Regions from separate parts of the Homo sapiens genome. Here region 2 is linked to region 1. Evidence: fine-mapped QTL for protein levels in blood plasma. Region 1 holds a variant in brackets. A gene starts in the other region. All regions are shown on their forward strands. Region 1 overlaps SLC4A1 (solute carrier family 4 member 1 (Diego blood group)). Region 2 holds the start of INPP5J (inositol polyphosphate-5-phosphatase J).

What was found. A credible set is the group of variants that fine-mapping cannot tell apart. PIP is the chance, under the fine-mapping model, that this variant and not a neighbour inherited with it causes the effect. Protein levels are from antibody-based Olink assays in UK Biobank. Linkage for the fine-mapping came from a reference panel and not from the study's own genotypes, which makes the PIPs less certain.
Region 2: INPP5J starts here. The variant in region 1 is the best candidate, but not a certain one, in a credible set for the plasma level of the INPP5J protein (UK Biobank, PIP 0.58).

The regions. Positions count from the first base shown.
Region 1 is chr17:44,248,029-44,253,028 of GRCh38, forward strand. It overlaps SLC4A1 (solute carrier family 4 member 1 (Diego blood group)), which reads right to left. Exons shown (of 20, transcript NM_000342.4): 18 at 3,391-3,560; 19 at 3,131-3,304; 20 at 362-2,510. The coding sequence ends at 2,430. Among named protein-coding and RNA genes, the nearest start is that of SLC4A1, 18 kb to the right of the region's middle. The variant A/C (reference allele first, on the strand shown) is at 3,608.
Region 2 is chr22:31,119,055-31,124,499 of GRCh38, forward strand. It overlaps INPP5J (inositol polyphosphate-5-phosphatase J), which reads left to right and starts at 3,912. Exons shown (of 13, transcript NM_001284285.2): 1 at 3,912-4,065. The coding sequence starts at 3,961. LOC105372995 (a long non-coding RNA gene) reads right to left here and starts at 1,248. Exons shown (of 3, transcript XR_938163.3): 1 at 829-1,248.

The DNA of each region.
Region 1 (5,000 bases):
TGTCAAAGGTGCTGTCCAGCTTCCCGGTAAGGGGTCCACTGATCTAAAGGGAATTGGGGGCTCACAAGTATAAGGAGCAGGGGGCAAGGTCCCCTTACAGTCCCTCCTCCCACCCCCACAGGTCTTGCTTATTCAGGAGAGGAAGGAGTCTCAGAGCATAATCTCATCTCTTGCTCCCTACCCACTCTCTGGGTGCTGGCCTCCCACCCTAGGGCTCAGGGTCACACCTCAGCCTGGCTCCCCTTGCTGCATAGATGCAGCCCTGTGCCAGGCCCGTGCCACACACACCATGCCCACCTAGTTCAGCCAAGACCCCCGGGACCCCCGACTCTGGGAACGGGAATTCAGGCAAGGCAGCCACTCCAACACAGATACGTTTATTGGCAAAACCTATTCCCAGGCATCAAGGGGAAGGGTGCTAGCAGAGTGAATAATTTTTGTTTTTCACTTTCCTTGGCCATGTTCAAGGAGCAAGGGGAGGGGGAGACAGGGACATCCCAGTCAAGATAAGGAGGATCCCAGCAGCTCCCCTCCGAGGTTGGGCTCTTCACCAACCAAGGCCTTTTCTTGCACTGTCTCCTTTAATCCTTATAACAACACTGCAAGGTAGGTACCATTATCATCCCCATTTTACAGACGAGGAAACTGAACTGTAGCATGGGCGAAGTGGTGAAAGGTGGGTGTCAGCTTTCAGGGACAGGAGAGCCTCCCATGGACTGAGCTAGCCTGGGAGGTACAAATAATGTTACTCTATGTTGGGCTGGAACCCCACCACACACACATGTTGAGTCTGTGGCCCCCAAGGCTGATGTTTCCTTCCGTTTTTTTTTTTTTTTTTTTTTTTTTTTTGAGACAGGGTCTCGCTCTGTTGCCCAGGCTGGAGTGCAGTGGTGCAATCTTGGCTCACTGCAACCTCCACCTCCTGGGTTCAGGTGATTCTCTTGCCTCAGCCTTCTAAGTAGCTGGGATTACAGGTGCCTGCCACGAGACACCCAGCTAATTTTTGTATTTTTAGTAGTAACGGGGTTTCACCATGTTGGCCAGGCTGGTCTCAAACTCCTGACCTCAAATGATCCGCCCAACTTGGCCTCCCAAAGTGCTGGGATTACAAACGTGAGCCACTGCGCCCAGCCACCTCCTCTCTTTTCTACCACTTCCTGATTCTGTTTCCTCCATCTCTCACCACTTTCACGTCTTTCAACTCTTTTTATCTTTTTGTTTTATAAAAAAATAAATTTGCCCATGTTCTTGGAGAGCCTGCTGTCTCCTACCCCAATTGGTCAGATCTGGGTTCTCCCCAAGATTCAGTTTAGATGGAGTTGAGGATAATGGCTCTCAAATGAGGGGCCTGAAGTTGTGTGTGAAGCCAAACTATGTTGAAAACTCTTAGAAAATACGCAATTAATAAATTACAAACCCCCTCACTCTCCCGCCCCTACCTTCCCACCCTCCCCCACTCCCTATCCAAATGTAGAATCAACTGTACCTTGCCCCCCACCCCCACCCCAGGGCAGGGCTTGTCTCAGTCCCCTCGGAGTCCACTGATTCCGGGGCCCTCAGTAAATGTTTGTGGAATGAATGAATGAGTGAACTAATGAGTGTTTGGAGGGAGGAACCAAACACTTAGGAGGCCTGAGTCCCAGGCCCAATCCCTGGATCATCCTTGCCTGTACCTTGTCCTCACCAGGACGCCTCTCTCTGGGCCCAGAGAAGAGGGTCTCAAGGTAGGGGCTGGGAGCAGAGTGGGGAAGGGAGGAGTCACAGGGGAAGGGAAAGTGGACGCATGACTGACAGAGGACAGAGCTCGGACCTTGAAATCAGAAGGCCTGGTTCAAATCCCAGCTGCACGGCTCAGTTCAAATCCCAGCTATGTGACCTTGGGTACGTTCAAAGACAAATGATGACTGCTATAGAACAGTCCCTGTGGAGTTTACAAAGCCCTATTTTACATGTATCTTTGGTCCTCAGTAACCATCCTGTAATGTGGGTATTATCATCAATATACCCATTTTACAGAAGAGGAAATATAGGCTGGAAAGGTCAAGGGACTTGCCCAAGGTCACACAGCAAGCACCCCACCCGCTCACCCACCTCCTGCCTTTGCTTCTACCCCTGCCTGTGCTGGGAAGAGGGAGGGCTCAGATCTAAGTCTTCCAGCACGGGATCCCCAGTGAAAGTGTGGCAACAGGAGGGACTGTGCAACAAACCCCCTAATGTGGGCCCCATCGGCCATCCCCAGCCAGAAAAGCCAGGCTACCCTTTGTGGAAGGTCTCCTGGACACGCCTTCCTTCCCCACCCACAGCCCTGGGGCCTCAGCTGCTGCTCCAGGAGGATCCTGGAGTCCATGAGGTGCCCATGAACTTCTGCTTTTCCTTGGAAGGTGGGGATGTGGAATGGTGGGGGAGGGTCTAGGGCCTGGGCCCGCCCCTCACACAGGCATGGCCACTTCGTCGTATTCATCCCGACCTTCCTCCTCATCAAAGGTTGCCTTGGCATCATCAGCATCCAGCTGGAGGGGAGGGACAGGAGAGAGACAGGGTGAGAGACCCTGGGGCCAGAAGAGCCCTCCCCGGGCACGAAAGGCACCTCTGGAGTTAGGAGAGGGTCTGGCTGTCTTGAACCTTGGACCAGTCCTGTTTTATCTCCCCAGCAGCTAGGACTGGCCTAAATGAGTCGTTGTCAAAGTGAGAGGCAACCCCGGGGATGTGGACCCTGGCAGGGGAGGGCCTGCAGAGGGTGAGCAGGGGACCTTTTCACCAAGGCGGCCCCACAGTGACCTGAGTCACCCTGTGGAAGAATCCTATTAGAGGAGTGACTCTGTCCCAAATGACTCGGAAGACGGCAGGACTTGCTGCTTAGGGGTCCAGCTCACTCACAGCACACCCTGTCTGCCTCTTGACGCTCTCCCCAGTCGTGCCATCATTTCCCCCTTTACAGGTGAGCAAAATGAAGACACAGAGAAACAAGGCCCCGTGCTCCAGATCATATGCTAGGACACAGCAGGCCAGAACCTGGACACCAGCCCTAGCCCCAGACTTTACCCATGACTCTGTCCTGCCTGCCCTAGTTCTGAGACGCGCCCCTCGCATGCTCCCAGCTCTTGTGCCCCAGGCCCAGGCAGCCACTCACACACTGAAGCTCCACGTTCCTGAAGATGAGCGGCAGCAGGACGCGCCGCAGCGGCACAGTGAGGATGAGGACGAAGGGCAGGGCCAGGGAGGCCGGCGTGGACTTCACCACCCACAGCACTGCCAGGCAGATGATCTGGATGCCCGTGAATAAGTGCATGCGCCAGGTCTTCACCTGCAGGCGGAGGCTGGGGTCAGTGCCTATCACACCCCAGCACCCTCTACCACCCCAGGCTGGGCAGCCAGAAAAGGGTCCTGTACCCGCTTGACGTAGGGCACATCTGGGTGATACTTGGGTGGCTTGAACAGAAGCAAGATGCGGTCAAAGAGCTGGATGCCGCTGAGCGACGTGACCCCCATGTAGAGGAAGATGCCAAACAGTACAGCCAGGGGGATGCGGGACAGGATGGGCTCCATGAGGATGGACAGGCCTGTGGGGGAGCCGCACACTCTCAGCCCAGGTTGCCCGAGGCCTGGC[A/C]CCAGTGGGGGGTCAGGCCCCTATCTGGGGCTGGGAATAAAACACAGGCACCATATGGAGCCATTTCTTTTTTCCTTTTCTTTTCTTTTTTTTTTTTTTTTTTTGTTTTTTTTTTTGAGACAGGATCTCGCTCTGTCACCCAAGCCAGAGTGCAGTAGTGTGATCTCGGCTCACAACAGACTTAACCTCCTGATCCCAAGTGATCCTCCCGCTTCAGTGTCCCTAGTTGCTGGAACTACAGGCACATACAACCACACCTGGATCATTTTTTTTTTTTTTAATTTTTAGTAGAGACAAGGTCTCACTATGTTGCCCAGGCTAGTCTTGAACTCCTGGGCTCAAGTGATTCTCCTGCCTTGGCCTCCCAAAGTGTTGAGATCCCACGCCTGGCCTGGAGCTATTCCTATGGGTCTTTTTTTTTTTTTTTTTTTTTTTTTTGAGGCGGAGTCTCACTCTGTTGCCCAGGCTGGAGTGCAGTGGTGCAATCTCAGCTCACTTCAACCTCCGCCTCCTGGGTTCAAGCAATTCTCCTGCCTCAGCCTCCCAAGTAGCTGGGATTATAGGCGTGCGACACCACGCCCAGCTGATTTTGTAATTTTAGTAGAGACGTGGTTTCACCATGTTGGACAGGGTGACCCACCTGCCTCAGTCTCCCAAAGTGCTGGGATTACAGGCGTGAGCCACAACCCCCGGCCTCTATCGGTCCTTTTTATAGGTATTACCCCAATTTTACAGATGAGGAAACAGGCTCAGAGAGGTAAACAACCTGCCTAAGGCCACACAGCTGGCAAGGAGTCAAAGCCCTGCCTGCCTGACTTAAGCCCACTCCCTTAACCTAATGAGGGTCACAGAGGTCAAACACACACACCTTTCTCCTCACCCCAGCCCAGAATGCCATCAACTGCCTCCTTTAAGAATTTTCCCTGACCTCTCCATCTGCAACCATGGCACTGCCCACACCGAACCCAGCTCGACTCTTGGCTGCTCCAGAACTGAAATCAACCCCAGTGACCCTTCTTTCTTCTCCCCCACATCCCTGGACTATGGCTAGAGCACCGCCCCTTGTATCAGTCATGGAGCAGCTGAGCTGGAAGAGAACTGGGGGACATCTGTTGAACCCTCCAACTGTGCAGACAGGGAAACTGAGACCCAGAGACAAGGAGGGATACTGGGTTAGCAGCAGGGCAGGGCTAGAACCCACAGTTCACTGGACTTCTGTTGGGTAAGTCAGAAGGTGGGGTCTGGTCTGGAGAAGGCCTCGGAGTGGAGCCCCCTTCCTCCCTGCTCAGACGCCCAGCCCAGTGCCTTGGCCTTTCCTCCAGGATCCCCTCGTGTGAGTAGGGGATGCTGGGGAGATGTGGGGAAGTGGTGCAGGATGGGGGAGGCTGGAGGA
Region 2 (5,445 bases), not on the chromosome of region 1:
CCAATAAAGAAGCTTCTGGAGGCATAGGAGCCCAGAGCAAGTCAGTCTGCAAGAAATGAGAGCCCCCAGGCAAGCTTAGCAGGGTCTGGTGGCTGCAGGAAGTTTCCCCTGGACTGCTGAGGCCGGGTGTCCTAGAGCCTCTAACCTACATGGCTCTGCTGCTTGAGATCCCCTCGCACCAGAATAAAAATAGCCACTCACTTCAGAGCAGCTGACAGCGGGTGCTGGGCTGCCTAGGAGGAGGGGGAGCCGAAGAGAAGGAGGAGAGAGGCCTGAGCTCAGCCCCAGCTGTGTGACCTTGGGAAAGTCACTCCTCCTCCTCCAGCCCATTTCCTGAGTGGCAGAATGGGGAGTGAGGATGACATCTGCCTCAGAGGGTGAGAATGAAGTGCTGGGGACATAACATGTGAAGCTTGTTACCAACAAGAAACCCTGGAGTGAAGCCTTGGGAGAAGAAATGCTCTTTTGTGCCCTGTATACTTCCTCCTCAGGGAAGCCCTCCCAGATAACCCCTTCTTTCACATTCCCACAATATCCTGTATCACCCTCTACACCTTTGCAGATGGTAGCCATAGCATGACCTCCCTCATGGCGGGCCTGGGTCAGGGTGACCAGGGAGAGAAAGGAAGGAGGACAGACCCTCGGTACCGTTGCCATCCTCAGGTGCCCCTGGAAAGTGAACCGAGGAAGAGGAGGAGGAAAAAGACAGGAAAGACTTCTCTCCCTTCCCTGCTCATGTTTACTCCGAACCAAAGGGCAGGAGGGTACATGTCCAAATTTCTCATCCTTTCACAGCCAGAACCTTCCTTCCCCATCCATGCTTTGTACCTGCTGTTCTCTCTGCTTTCCAGCCAGGGCGTTTCTCTTCTTCGATTTGGCAGCACGGACTCTCCTTCAAAGAAGGGGTTCAACAGTCAGCTCCTCTGTCGGGAAGAATTATCCACTGCCTCTCCAGGAGCTCCATGCTCTGTCCTCTCTCTACTGGCTGTGTAATCCCTGGGCCTCGGTTTCTTCCTCTGTCCAATGGGGGCCTCATTACCAACCTCACAGGGTTACTATGGAGAGTAACTGGGATACTCCATCTATCACTGGCATCCTGCCTTCCTATCCCTGACCCACACAGCCTGAAGGACAGCACTGAGTTTCCAGGAGTGGGCTGGATGAGCCCTGGACCCTGCCTCAGTACGCCCACCCCCCTCCCCCACCAAGAGTGAGGGCAAGGAGGGAGCCAGAAAGGGCCTCCAGAGACAGCCGTCTCCAGGGGGGCGGTTCTCCCTGACAGCTGCCCCCAGCCTGCCGCCCTGAGCCCCAGAGCCTGTTATCAACCTCCTTAGTCATCACACCAGGAGCTCAAATATAGCTCCAACTCACTCCCTTTTCAGCTGGGGTCCGCCCCCTACCCCCTTCTCCTGACAAGACCAGGCTTGGGTCTCAGAGCCCCTTCCTTGTCCTCCCAGGAGAGTAACCACCCTCAGCCTGTTTCAGCATCCACCACATGGGCAGGCTGAAGTCAATGGTGGTGATGATGATGATGATAAATACAGAGCAGCCACCTTTATGGAGAGCTTGCTGTGCCAGGCAGGCTCTATGCTAAACATTTCATATATATTATCCTGTTGAATCTTCACCAGCAAACTTAGGAGGTGTCTGCTGTTTTAATCTCCCTTACACAAATTGGGAATCAGAGTGACCTCCTCAAGTAAGTCAGTGGCAGGGCCAGAAACAAAGTCCCCTGCAGGGTCTGAGCTCAGGGAGCGGGTGGTGGGAAATCCTGGGTTGCCCTCCTGAGGCAGAGGAGCCCTCTGCAGACACATTTGCATGACATTTGCCTGGCTTCCAAAGGGCACTGATGCCCCTGTCCCAGCCCTAGATGGCTGAGCCTTAGGACTGGTCCCAGAGGCCTGGATCTGCCCATCATTCCCTCTAGGATTGCATGAAAAGCTGGGTAGTCTTGGGGGCTCCCATTTTCTTTTTCTTTTTTCTTTTCTTTCTTTCTTTTTTTTTTTTTTTTTGAGACAGGGCCTCTCTCTGTCACCCAGGCTGGAGTGCAGTGGTACGATCTTGGCTCATTGCAACCTCCACCTCCACCTCCCAGGTTCAAACAATTCTCCTGTCTCAGCCTCCCAAGTCGCTGAGACTACAGGCATGTACCACCACACCCGGCTCATTTTTATATTTTTAGTGGAGATGGGGTTTCGCCATGTTGACCAGGCTGGTCTCGAACTCCTGACCTCAGGTGATCTGCCCACCTCAGCCTCCCAAAGTGCTGGGATTACCCGCACTTTGCCAGTACTCCCCCAGCCCGGGGGCTCCCATTTTCTTATTTGTAAAACAGGAGACAGAGGATAAGACAGGATGAGTTCGAATCTTCCTTTTTCTGGTAACCTGAGCATCACCACCAGGTCTACTCTCACATCCTCCCTGACTGTCACCTCCAACTCCAACACTACCTCTTTCATTGACACAACACCATCATCAGTATTGGTATCATCATCACCTCTACCTTTGCCATCACCATCACCTCCACCACCTTCACCACAACCACTGCTAGCCCCCTACTTCCATCATCACAGTTACATACATCATCACATCCATCACCACAGTCGCCTTCCCCGTCACCACTGTCACCATCTCCACTATCGCTGTCCAAAGACCTTTCTACCCCAACACTCTAATATGGCCTGAGTCTCTGCCCCTGCAAATTCCAGCAGAGATGCTGGCCTGAGAATACAGACTAGACCTACTGACAGTCAAGCAGAGGTAGGAAGTGCCTTCAGGAGAGGAAAGTGAGGCATCTGCCTTCATGTAGGAGACTGCACAGGCCCATGCAGATGCTCCATGTTGGTTAACAGGGAGCTCTGCACACACAACTCTGAACACTTTCTGCCTAAAGTGGGTGGGATCACTCCTCTCTAAGCCATGAGAAACAGATCCCACAGCCATCCCAGCCCAATCTGACCCTCATCACCCATTCACTCTTCTAATTCATTTATTCATTCAACAAACACTCCCGTAGGCCTGTTGGGGACCATGTCCTGGGCTGGGTCCTGGCTGTAGCAATTCTCAGGCCTGTTTGTAACTCTCTTGTCAGTCTGTTACCCCACTGCTGGGCCCTTCTCCACCCAAGTTCCCTTCCCCCAGATAGCTCGAAGGGCTTGTGCTCATCCTAGGTCACTAAGTTTTCTCACTGAAACACAGGAGACCTTCTCAGTTCACCAGGTGACCTTGAGCAAGTTCCCCTCCCAAACCACACCCAGTGAATACTGGAGAGAAGAAAGCTGACAGAAGCCGGGCTGGGTTAGGCCTGGCTGTGGGGACATCTGAGGGCAGCTAGGTGTCTGCAGAAGAGGAGGGGCTGGTGCTGAGGCCTGAGATGGGAAAAGACTGCAGTGGCTGGAGCCTGAGTGTCTGGTTCTGGGTTGGGAAGAATAGAGCCTGGGACTGGCAGTAGGAGTGGAGAGGGTGGCACCAAGACCTGAAAATGGGGCAAGGGTGGGGGCCGGGGCAAGCTCTGAGCTGGCAGGGAGCCAGGAAGGTCACAGGATCAGGGCAAGAACTCAGTTGTCTCTGAGGCCCTGGAGAGGGTGCAGACCTCTGAACCACCTGTCCTACCTTAAGGCAGGTGTGTTAATGCCCCTCCCTGGAGCAAAGGGCTGACCAGGCCTACGGCAGAAAGGTGAAGGTAGACAGACAGCCTCCTTCCTGCTGCCAGTTGGGACCTGGGCCAGGCAGATGGGTACACTCTCCCCTCCCCACTCCATGGCTGTTCCAGCCTCAGCAGCCAGTTTGAAGGATTCCCAGGGGGTAGCCACCTTGCTTCGGCCTCTTCCAGGCTGGGAAGTGGGAGCCTGTGCCTTTAAATTCTCAGCAGGTTGAAATGGCTGATGACATCACTGGTTCCCGGGAGCGGTAGAGCTGGAGCCGGAGCCAAGGGAGTCCAGGCTGCCGGGGGCTGCAGACATGGAGGGCCAGAGCAGCAGGGGCAGCAGGAGGCCAGGGACCCGGGCTGGCCTGGGTTCCCTGCCCATGCCCCAGGGTGTTGCCCAAACTGGGGCACCCTCCAAGGTAAGACCCCTGAGACCCAGTGCCCCCCGCTTTCCTGATCCCTGGTTCCACACACCCCCCCCACATACACTGCAGGCTCCCTGGTGCTCCTGACTGAGGGGCTGGTACTTTCCTCTGCTCAGCGAGCAGGGGCTAGGTGAAGAGAGCACCCTGGGGGCTGAGGGGCAGTGACAGGATGCCCGGAGACAGATGAAGTTAGCCATCTCCAGGAGCCCTTGGGAGAGTCCTGGACTGGGTATCAGAGGACCCAGCTGTGCTCCACCTTTGCTGTGTGACCTTGGCCAAGTTGCTTTTCCTCTCTGAGCCAATGCAAAATGAGGGGGCTTGTCGCTGAAGACTAAAACTGTGACATCTGGGATGGCTAAGTTGTTAGTACTGGAGGCGGTGTGATAGTTGGGGGGAAGCCGGCACACAGTGTGACACTTGGAGCCAAGGAGGGTGCCTAAAATGCCACCTCAAAGAACTGAGTTTGAGAAGGGAGGTGGAGATGGAGTTTTAGGTACTCTGAACTGAGAAGGATACGGGACAGAAACAGAAGTGCGTCTCCAGAGGCAGGGCCTCCCTGCGCCCTGTTACCCTACCTAGGGCCATCCTGGGGCAAGTATAGACATTCTTCTGCCCTCCTTGGTGAAGGACACTTTATCCTGTCTTCTGGAGACAGGGGACATCAGAGAGAATAGATGGGGAAGGAGGATAGGTCTCTACAGGACTCCGTGACTCCCCACCCCTCCCACCTGCCGGACATAAATGGGATACCTGCTTGCCTGTCCTTTCAGGTAGGGGAGAAAGTGGAGGATGTAAGAGGGCACAACCTGGGCACAGAGAGATGTGACACCAGGATCAACTTAGAATCCTGGACTTGCTCTGAATGCTAGATTCACACTTGGTGAGGATGGACTATTCAACGGGGCTAGATGGAATTCTAGCAAATGTTGGGCTCATAAATGCAGACAATGGGAGATGAAGATTCCCCAGAATATAATGTGGCCAGGAACCCTAGACCCCATCCCTTCATTTTACAGACAGAGAAACTGAGGCGCTGGGCAGAGAGGTACTTGCCTAAGGTCACACAGAGCTGGGCTTTGAATCTACACAGCCAGTCTCAGCTCCCAGCTCTTGCTCCTGAGTGGAGCTCTGGGAATGGGTAAGAGAACAGAGAGGGCTGTAACCAAGGGATTTGGATGTTTAGGGGGCGGTGGGGAACTGAGGGTTTCTGGGCATTATGAAGGAAGGGAGAGGTATTTAACAAGCTGCACCTGTAGGTCTGTATCTTGACAATAGAAAAAGAAAAGAAACAGGCTGTCCCCAGTGTGCCCAGACCTGGGATGTCAGGTCAGTAGCCGTGGCTGGGGGAGCTTCAGGGACTGCAGTGGGAGGGTT